2 separate regions of the Homo sapiens genome follow, and region 1 is linked to region 2. Evidence: fine-mapped expression QTL. Tissue or cell type: B cells. Region 2 holds a variant in brackets; the other region holds the start of a gene. All regions are shown on one strand. Distances are between the middles of the regions.

Region 1 (4,403 bases), 47 kb after region 2:
TTAACTGTAACTTCTTAACCGTTGCCCAATCTCTCCCTATCCTCCCCTGCTCCCCTTCTCAGTTTATCTTCCATTCTCAAGTTCCTAATCTGAAAAAAATGCACCTAGTTTCTATCTTGCATACTTGTGAGTCTCGGCGATATCATCCATATATGCACACAGTTCTCAGTGCAGGAGATGCCCTCAGCAAATGGCAACTAGCCATTCCTCTATTTGAAAGACAGTCAGACACAATGGCCTGGGGTGCTTGCCTTGTGGATGTTCTGCAGTTTCTAAGCAATTCTGCTGCAGAAGCACTACTGGGGGACACCCCCTCTTCAGGTGAAACTGCGATGTAATGAATGCCTTTTAATAATTCGGTCATCAATTTCCCTTGAGTTGGTCCCACATTGAACCTGTCATAGGCTCGCATCCGTTAATCTTAAGAAATACGGTTTGTTGCATTTTAGAGATCATGGAAATGATCATTTCAAAGTAGTTTTCCTCCTGTTTCATCTGGGATTTATAAAGAACTTCAGCCATTCCTAAATATGAGACAAAAAGGTCTGACAGCAAGTGACTTTAGAGAGATATCTGGCTCAGAAAAGACTACCAAAGTCCAGGAGATGGTTGGAAAGATGGGCCCATATGAGAATTCTGTGTTTATTTTCTCCCTAGGTGAATGTCTTTGCTGATAATGTTTCCAGGCACCACTGGGCAGTGAGTCATTTTTGGCCCTACCCACTTCACTTAAGAGATACGAACTGAATTTAAAACCCAGATATCTGAGGAAGGCCATCTCATGCTCCTTCAGGGCACCCACAGCCCCAGCAGCAACAAAAGGTGGTGATAATGGAGGGAAGTAGAGAGGGAGACCCAGGAAATCACATGCATTAACTAGAGTTTTCATGAACAGAGTTGAAAAAAGAAGACATTTCAAATTTTAAATTCTTCTCCCAACTCCTATACCTGGCTCTTTAATGTTATAAAAATCAGAGGATTCCACTAGGGGGGATAAATGTTTTGAAGAAGTAATCCATTGATCACTTCCTCTCACTCGACATGTTTAACTAGATGGAATCAATACTTCTTAGCCTAGCAATGGGTTTGTAAAAAAAAAAAAAAAAACGGTAACACAATTGGATGTTGTAAGGCAACTTAGGATAAAAGGATCCTGTAGACAAATTCCTCCTTATCCCTTACCCCACCTGTGAGCACCTTTGATTAAAAGTCAGATCTGTATGGATATATTAAGTCACCAAATTCATGGAGGTTAGGGCACAAATCTTTTTTTTTCATTTTTCAGTGCATTTACTTGTCATCCAACACCTGCCCTAATGACACACACAGAAACAAAGAATCTTGAGTTTTAAACTGAGCACAAGAAATTGAAAATATAACTATGTAAAACATCAAAAGTCCCACCCACTTTTTAAAAGAACTTGCTTAATTCAAGCATATTTAAGAAATAGTGCCCCTGTCTAACACATTTCTATTACATTAGCACAGTGCCTACTTGCAGGTTTTATTTCTTGCAGTTCAATGAGTACAGTATTTCAACTGGAGAACTCGAAACAGACACAAAGGCTTTTTTTTTTTTTTTTTTTAGTTAACCCTTCAGAGAAAACATGCAGGGACAATCACCACTTCTTCATTTTCACTGTCACCTGGATTCACAACCATGCAGCCAAAGACAGTTTCAGATGGGCAGATGGCCCTAGTGGTTAATAGAGATGAGAGAGGGAAAAGAAATAAATGAATGCTCTGTTTTCTGTGTAAGCAAATAAAAAGGCAGAGGAAACAAAAGGAATGAACCAGCCAATGGGGTTGAATCATCGAGTCCCTCTAAACATACCTTGACTTTCCCATGCAGGGATCTACTTCCCCGATAGCCAGTTCAGCGTGGATACTCATGCCGATGAGCCTAAGAATGTTTGCCTGTCAGAGATAAACACTGCATTTCTGCCTGCTGCACACAGAGTTGCTGGAACCTGACAATGCCGTGTGCGAGTAATAAGCCATCATGAAATGGTGAAAGAGTCAGGGCTCTTGAATTACGCTTGCTTTATATGGGTTGAATTGCACATCTAGGGCAATGTTTGGCCAAGTGAACAGGGCATGCAAAGACCTTGCTTCCTCTCTGTGCTGTGGGGAACTGAGACTGTGCCGGGCCTGCAAACGCGGTGAGGAAAAATCCATTTGAATGCTTACTGCTGAATGGTGCTGGGCATTGTCAGCTTTTGTTTACTTCATCTTACATGTGAAGATCGCAGCTGTTCCTTTCAGTAAAAAGAAGTAGGAGAATGTAGCAACCAACCTCACATTTTCCCCTCCTCCAAATGTTTGTGGAGCCCAACAGCTGTCTTTGCAAATCCTGTCACTCAGGATTGGAATGGTTCTACATAATCAAGAATGGAGTGGTGAGGCTGAGATTGTTGGCTGGCTCGAGGTAGCAGGTGGGAATGAACTGTTCTCTTAATGGGCTCACTTGGTCTGTTCCTGCAGGGACTGACTCAAAAAAGAAAAAAGAAAGTTTAAAGGAGGCGATGAAGGAAAGTTGAACACATATGTCTTGTATTTCATACGTATAGATCTGAATGGCTGTGAAGCATGAATTCACTGGTTGTTAGAATTGTAAGGGATTTGAAAGGTCCTATTGTCTAGGAGTTTTCAAATTATTTTTAGCAGCAGAGGTTTTTTTTTTTTTCTTTCCTCAAATGAAGTCTTAGACTAGGGATATTGTGTGATAAATGAAAATACCTACATAGAATAAGCGGAAGCATCAATGGAAAACTGGGCTGGGTATAAGAAAAGCAACTTCAATAACAAATGAGCTCAGTTCTGGTAACAGGGCGGGAGTCATGAGGACTGAGGCAAATTGGATGTGCTTGGAGAGGACGAGTGCTCCTCCTTCTCAGCACAGCCACGCACGGCATAAGGATGTTTTGGTCAAGAAAGACTGCGTGTATGATAGTGGTCCCAGATTATAATACTGTATTTTTATTGTACTTTTTCGATGTTTAGATACAGAAATGCTGACCATCGCAATGCACAGGAATGCCCTAGGATGGCGGCCAAAGCCTTCCGTCTCCCACCCAGCCCATTTTCCTAACAAATGTGCGCATTTAACATTGTTTTTCATCCCCAAGAATGGGGTATCAATAGAATCTACAAGACCAAGACTTAAATGAAATGAATCAACAGTAACACAAACAGTAGCAATTTTCAATTAGAAATTTAAGGAAAGCTTCATAAAATGTTCATAGAATTCTGTCTCAATTCACCTAGCCCATTTCAACTGTAGCGTAGACGTCTGTTGTTAACAGCCTTAACATCTTTTTTGGGCTTTTTGCAAATATGAGTACAATTTACGTCATTTATTCCCACCCAATAGATTAAATGCCAGGAGTCTGGAATACAGAGAAAAAAGAAAAAAAACTATAAAGAGAACAACAACAACTACAAAAATCAGCTAAGTCTGAGCAGTTTCAAGAGACATGCTGATTTTTTAAAAATATGCGGAGACTATCCAGTTATCTCAGATTCCTGGTTCGTTTTCCACTCAAAAGTTAGGTCAGCTAGCATCTGACATAACAGTCCTTGATTATCTCTGGTTTTGAAAAACAGAAGAATACAACAGATTGCTTCTGCTCAGTCAACCAAGTTCTTGTGTTTTAGTTACCCTGACATCAACTTCAGGTGAAGGAAGAATGTTTACATATCAAAGTGGATAACATTTCATGCTGGTGGAAGGCGCTTCTTCCTCTGTTTTTCTGGCCGTGCAGGCTGCAGCCAGAACAAGGCTGGCCTCTGCCTGTTTTAAAGGAATTTGACTTATGGACTGGCTCCAACACAAAAATGCATATTCATCTTCCAGAACAGGTACAAAACATCCCCTGTTATTAATAACCTACAGCACCTCTCTTCTCATTTCATACATACCAGCAGAACTTGACTTTCACTCATATTATAGTTGATTTTTTTAACACAATAAAAAGTGGAGAATGACAGAATTTTACTCGAAGAATCTTTTTTGTATTTAGTTTTTTTTTTCATTTAGTGGTTATGAAAAGCAGAATTATGTCTTACTTATTGAAATCTTTTGAAATGCTTTTAGACTTTCCTCAAATCTTTTAAATCACAATAAAGGGAATCGATAGCCATCTTTCCAGGTGAAAGGAGTTGAACCAGCTAATGCATCACTCATTCTGATTAACCAATTCAAAGGCAGGCAGGCAGTTAAATATTTGCTGTAATTCATTCTTGAGTGGTTATATATGCTTCAGTGGCAGATTTGATTTAATAAATATCAATAACCATGGCAATGCTCAAGGAGGAAAAACAAAAGCAAACTATGAAATAATTTAGGTGTCTCTTTTATTAAAAGTACAGTGGAAAATTATCTCAAGATAACCATGGCACAT
Region 2 (4,403 bases):
AACTACTGTCCACCCCCTGTTCTCTCTCTCTCTCTCTCTCTCTCTCTCTCTCTCTCTCACACACACACACACACACACACACACACACACACACACAGAGTACATGATAGTCATATATGTTTGAATGTTCATATTTCAGCATTAATAAATTGATACTTGCTAGCATTGTGGTTGCATGGAGCAAATGAAAATTATTACAGCTTGATATGGTTTGGATCTGTGTCCCCACCCTAATCTCATGTCGAATGGTAACCCCCCAGTGTTGGAGGTGGGGCCTGGTGGGAGGTGATTGGATCATGGGGGTGGATTTCACCTTTGGTGATAGTGAGTAAGTTCTCGTGAGATCTAGTCATTTAAAAGTGTGTGGCACCTCTCTGCCTCTCTCTCTCGGTCCTGCTTCTGCCATGTAAGATGCCTACTCCCACTTTGCCTTCTGCCATGAGTAAAAAAGCTCCCTGAGGATTTCCAGAAGCAGAAGCTGCTATGTTTCCTGGAGCGAACCTGAACTTCCCCAGAAGCAGAAGCCCTAAGCTTCCTGTAGTGAAGTCTGTGAAACTATGAGCCAATTAAACCTCTTTTCTTTATAAATTACCCAGTCTCAGGCATTTCTTTATAGCAGTGCAAGAACAGACTAATACACAGCTTGAATATTTCTGCCCTCTTTGCTCAAGAAATAAGAGAAGTAATAGTCTAGGACATGTAGCAGGACTTCTTTCACCTTTGGTGTCAAACCACCCTATAAGAAATGTTTAGAAATACACCTGTGGAAACATAAGTTATATGTTGTAGATTATTCAAGTCAAAAAGACTGATGTATAAGAAGTGTGCCAGACGTGTCCATACTGATGAAAGTAGTCTCTTCCTGTAGTAAAGATTGGAAGGCTTTTTCCAATCTTTTTGCTTTTTCCAATGTTCATGTGCTTTTTCCAATGTTCTTGCCCATAGTTAATCAAATTTTCTTTGAAATACGAGAAAAAATGATAAATGTTTGAGCTGATGGATATCTTTACCCTAATTTGATCATTACACATTGTATGCACATATCAAAACATCACACGTACTCCATAAATATGTACAATTACTGTGTATCAATTTTAAAAATCTAAAAAAAAACTTATTTATTTTCTTCTTCTTCTTTTTTTTGAGACTCTCATTAGGTCACCAGGCTGGAGTGCAGTGGTGCGATCTCGGCTCACTGCAACCTCCGCCTCCCGGGTTCAAGCAATTCTCCTGCCTCAGCCTCCCAAGTAGCTGAGACTACAGGTGTGCACCAGCACACCCAGCTAAATTTTGTATTTTTAGTAGAGATGAGGTTTCACCATGTTGGCCAGGATGGTCTTGATCTCTTGATCTTGTGATCTGCCCGCCTCGGCCTCCCAAAGTGCTGGGATTACAGGTGCACCTGGCCTTTTTTGAAATATTTTATAGAGCCTGATTAATATTATTTCCAAGTGATCTTCATTGGTGACAGATCATTGCCCTTTTAAGATACATTTTATTTCTTTAATAGGAAGAAATAATCAGGAGTTGAGATTAAACAAAAATATGGGTGACAAAAGTGATAAGGCTTTTGGTGAAACACAGGGTGTGGCTATAATTAAATCAAATTTAATTGTGTAAACTCATTGCTCAAAAGGCAGTTTCCAAAAAGTGAATAATACATGAACAACAAACATTGTGTGGAACTGTGGCAGCACTGAGTCTGTGGCCCCTTGAGGTGTCACTTGACCAAAAAGCAATTTTTTGTGTGTCTGAATTATTTCAAGGGTGTTTATAAGACTCAGTTTTGTGTGTGTATCATATACACATAAGCAATAGTTCCAGCATAATGCAGATTTTGTAATAGGAAAATGAATGTATTAAAATTGATAAAAGAAAAGTCAAACGAAGTCAGCAACTCTGGTTTAGAGAAAAACTTTTACTATAAAGTTCTGTCTTTCTATTTTGTACCTCATGTACAATCCTTTGGCTTTAAGGATATTTCAAATGAGTGAGAGTAATACAAGTTTACTCTGAGTAGAAAATAAACTATGGAGTTCTCTTAACATTAAGCTTACTACATGAGTAGCAAGTCTTTTTTCCCCATAGCACGGGAGGAAGAAGAGCCTACTTGAGGCATTTCTAGTAGGATTTCACTTTTTAAATTGCTACTAGATTGGAAACTTCAAAGGTTTATTCTATAGTTTTGAATCCTAATTGAAAGGTTGACATTTTATGCTTGTTACTCCTGTG[T/C]TTGGTTTTGGAAAATGGTGTTTATTTTCCAAGTGACATGGCAGAAAGGAAAGCTCTGGACTAGGAACCAATAGATGAGGGCAAAGTCCTTTCTATATGTTTGTTATTGCTAGATTTGTGATGTTGAACAAGTTCCTCTGTCTATCTGGTCCTCAGTGTTCATATCATTAAAATGAAAGTAATGAACTACAAGATGTCTAAAATTCCACTTAGTTCTAACCTTCAGTGACTTGGTCATCTAAAGTTACAAATTGGGTATTTGAGGTTTTTAATAGCACAGATATCCTAAGACATTGACATCTGGCTTTCAAGAAAAGAGCCAGCTCCATAATTCCATTATTTTCCCATTAATGTTTAAGCTGGGAGAGAGAATGACTTAGCCAAGCACTCACACAATCATTATTCTTATGATGAAGCAACTTAACAACCAGCTTGTGTGTTTCCTGGTTGACATACACAGGAAAATTATCATCATTACATGTTTAGTGTATTGCTTAATTGATGAACTGTAGTATTTATGGAGTGGTACATTTTGCAATACTCCCTTTTTTGATGATTTTAAACTACAGAGCCATTATGGAAAGTCAGCTCTCTCCTGCGTGTACACATAATTTACTTTGAATTTCTGTGAAGATCAACCTAATTATAAACATTTTATACTGGACTAGAGCAATTCAGAACAAAGAGTCGTTCATTATATTCATGGTCATGACATTGTTAACTGTTTATATTTTTTGTTAGATTTCAAAAATATTGCATATAAAATCCTTTTAGCAATCCCTAAGTTCCTAACTCCTCACCCAGGGCTCTTTTACTATATTACAAAGCTACAAAATAAAGTAAAATAGTTGCTGAGAGTAACTCAATACAACTCTTCAGATTACCAGAAAACCTTTGCAAATTCAGACATCATGGTACATAAATCTAACTGCTCCTACTTCTGGTTTAAATGTGTTTCAGGGACTGATCATTGATATTTCTGCATTGTGTATCAATACTCAGCTTCCCAAAGGTAACTTTAGTGATTAAATAGTAAAGCTAGCTTTGCATATACACTTTTCATTGAATATTTTAGACTGAGCACATATAGGAGGATAGCAATATTGCCTGAAAATATGGAGTAATCCTTGGTAATGTGCACCACAATTCAAATTCAAGAATATTGGGGCAGGAGGGGGCATTTAACTGGGATTCACCTTGGAATAGAAAGCTCATAGCAAAAAGGCTCTTTAGTAAGATAATTCATACCTTTAAACTGCAAATTGTATGTGAAGGTGGAATTTATGGTCCTAGCAAGCATCAAGGAAAGCTTATGAAACTGAACTGCAGTTGTTCATGGCCAGCTAACCCTGCGGGAAATGGAAATGCACTTTGGTATTCTTAAAACTAAGTGTCAAAGCCCCTCAAATTTCAACTGGCTTTCAAAGAATTTTTAAAGCTTTAGAGGTTTTCAGTTAAGCACGTTCTTTTACTATTGTAGAGGTATGGAATGAACTCCTAGAAACATGTGTATGTTTAATTTATATTTTGCTTTGAAAATGTAAAAATATATTTATAAATATACATAAAAGGATATATTTATTTATTATACCCATATCTATCATCCTTGCATCTTCCAAAATGGCCTAGAGTATATTTTGGGTAAGGATAAGGAAAAAAGACAAAAAAAGGAAATGAAACAAGAATGGAGAAGGTAGACTGGAGGAGGAAGGAATGTTATGCATTCAACTTTATATGCTTAGCAAAAAGTTTGTATAAACTATTTTTGTCTTTAATAAGTTTCTTTTATGTTTCTCTATGAGACGTTACTATTAAAAATGATATGATGATGAGCTCTGACTATTCTCATTTCAGTACAAATCACCAGATAAAGATCTTTTTTTCCATTTATTTTTTCCTTCCCAGGAAAAGAAATCCCCTTTTAGTTGGCGGGAATCTATTGTTAGTTTTCCTTCTCTAAAATAGAGCCCTCTTGGCACATCCAGCAGAGAACTGCAAGGCAAACAGACTTCAGCATGTTTCATGTCGGTGAATGCAGAAGTTAGCTCACTGGCTTCAATAGTTGAGAACTCCACTTTCTCCCTTCATGACTGCATGTGTGCCTTCCTGAAGCTGTGCACTTATAAAAATGAGGGTTGACCTATCGAAATAGGAACGGACCATTCTTTCAT

Evidence for each region. PIP is the estimated chance that this variant, and not a neighbour inherited with it, causes the effect.
Region 1: LINC02397 starts here. The variant in region 2 is the best candidate, but not a certain one, in a credible set for the expression of LINC02397 in B cells (Schmiedel 2018, PIP 0.71).

What each region holds. Positions count from the first base shown.
Region 1 is chr12:92,464,434-92,468,836 of GRCh38, reverse strand. LINC02397 (long intergenic non-protein coding RNA 2397) reads right to left here and starts at 2,158. Exons shown (of 2, transcript NR_144532.1): 1 at 1,835-2,158. RefSeq lists enhancers at 974-1,033, 1,814-1,903, 2,104-2,253, 2,010-2,517 and a silencer at 2,230-2,524.
Region 2 is chr12:92,511,832-92,516,234 of GRCh38, reverse strand. It overlaps LOC105369904 (a long non-coding RNA gene), which reads right to left. Exons shown (of 4, transcript XR_945210.3): 4 at 4,107-4,403. Among named protein-coding and RNA genes, the nearest start is that of LINC02397, 47 kb to the right of the region's middle. The variant T/C (reference allele first, on the strand shown) is at 2,233.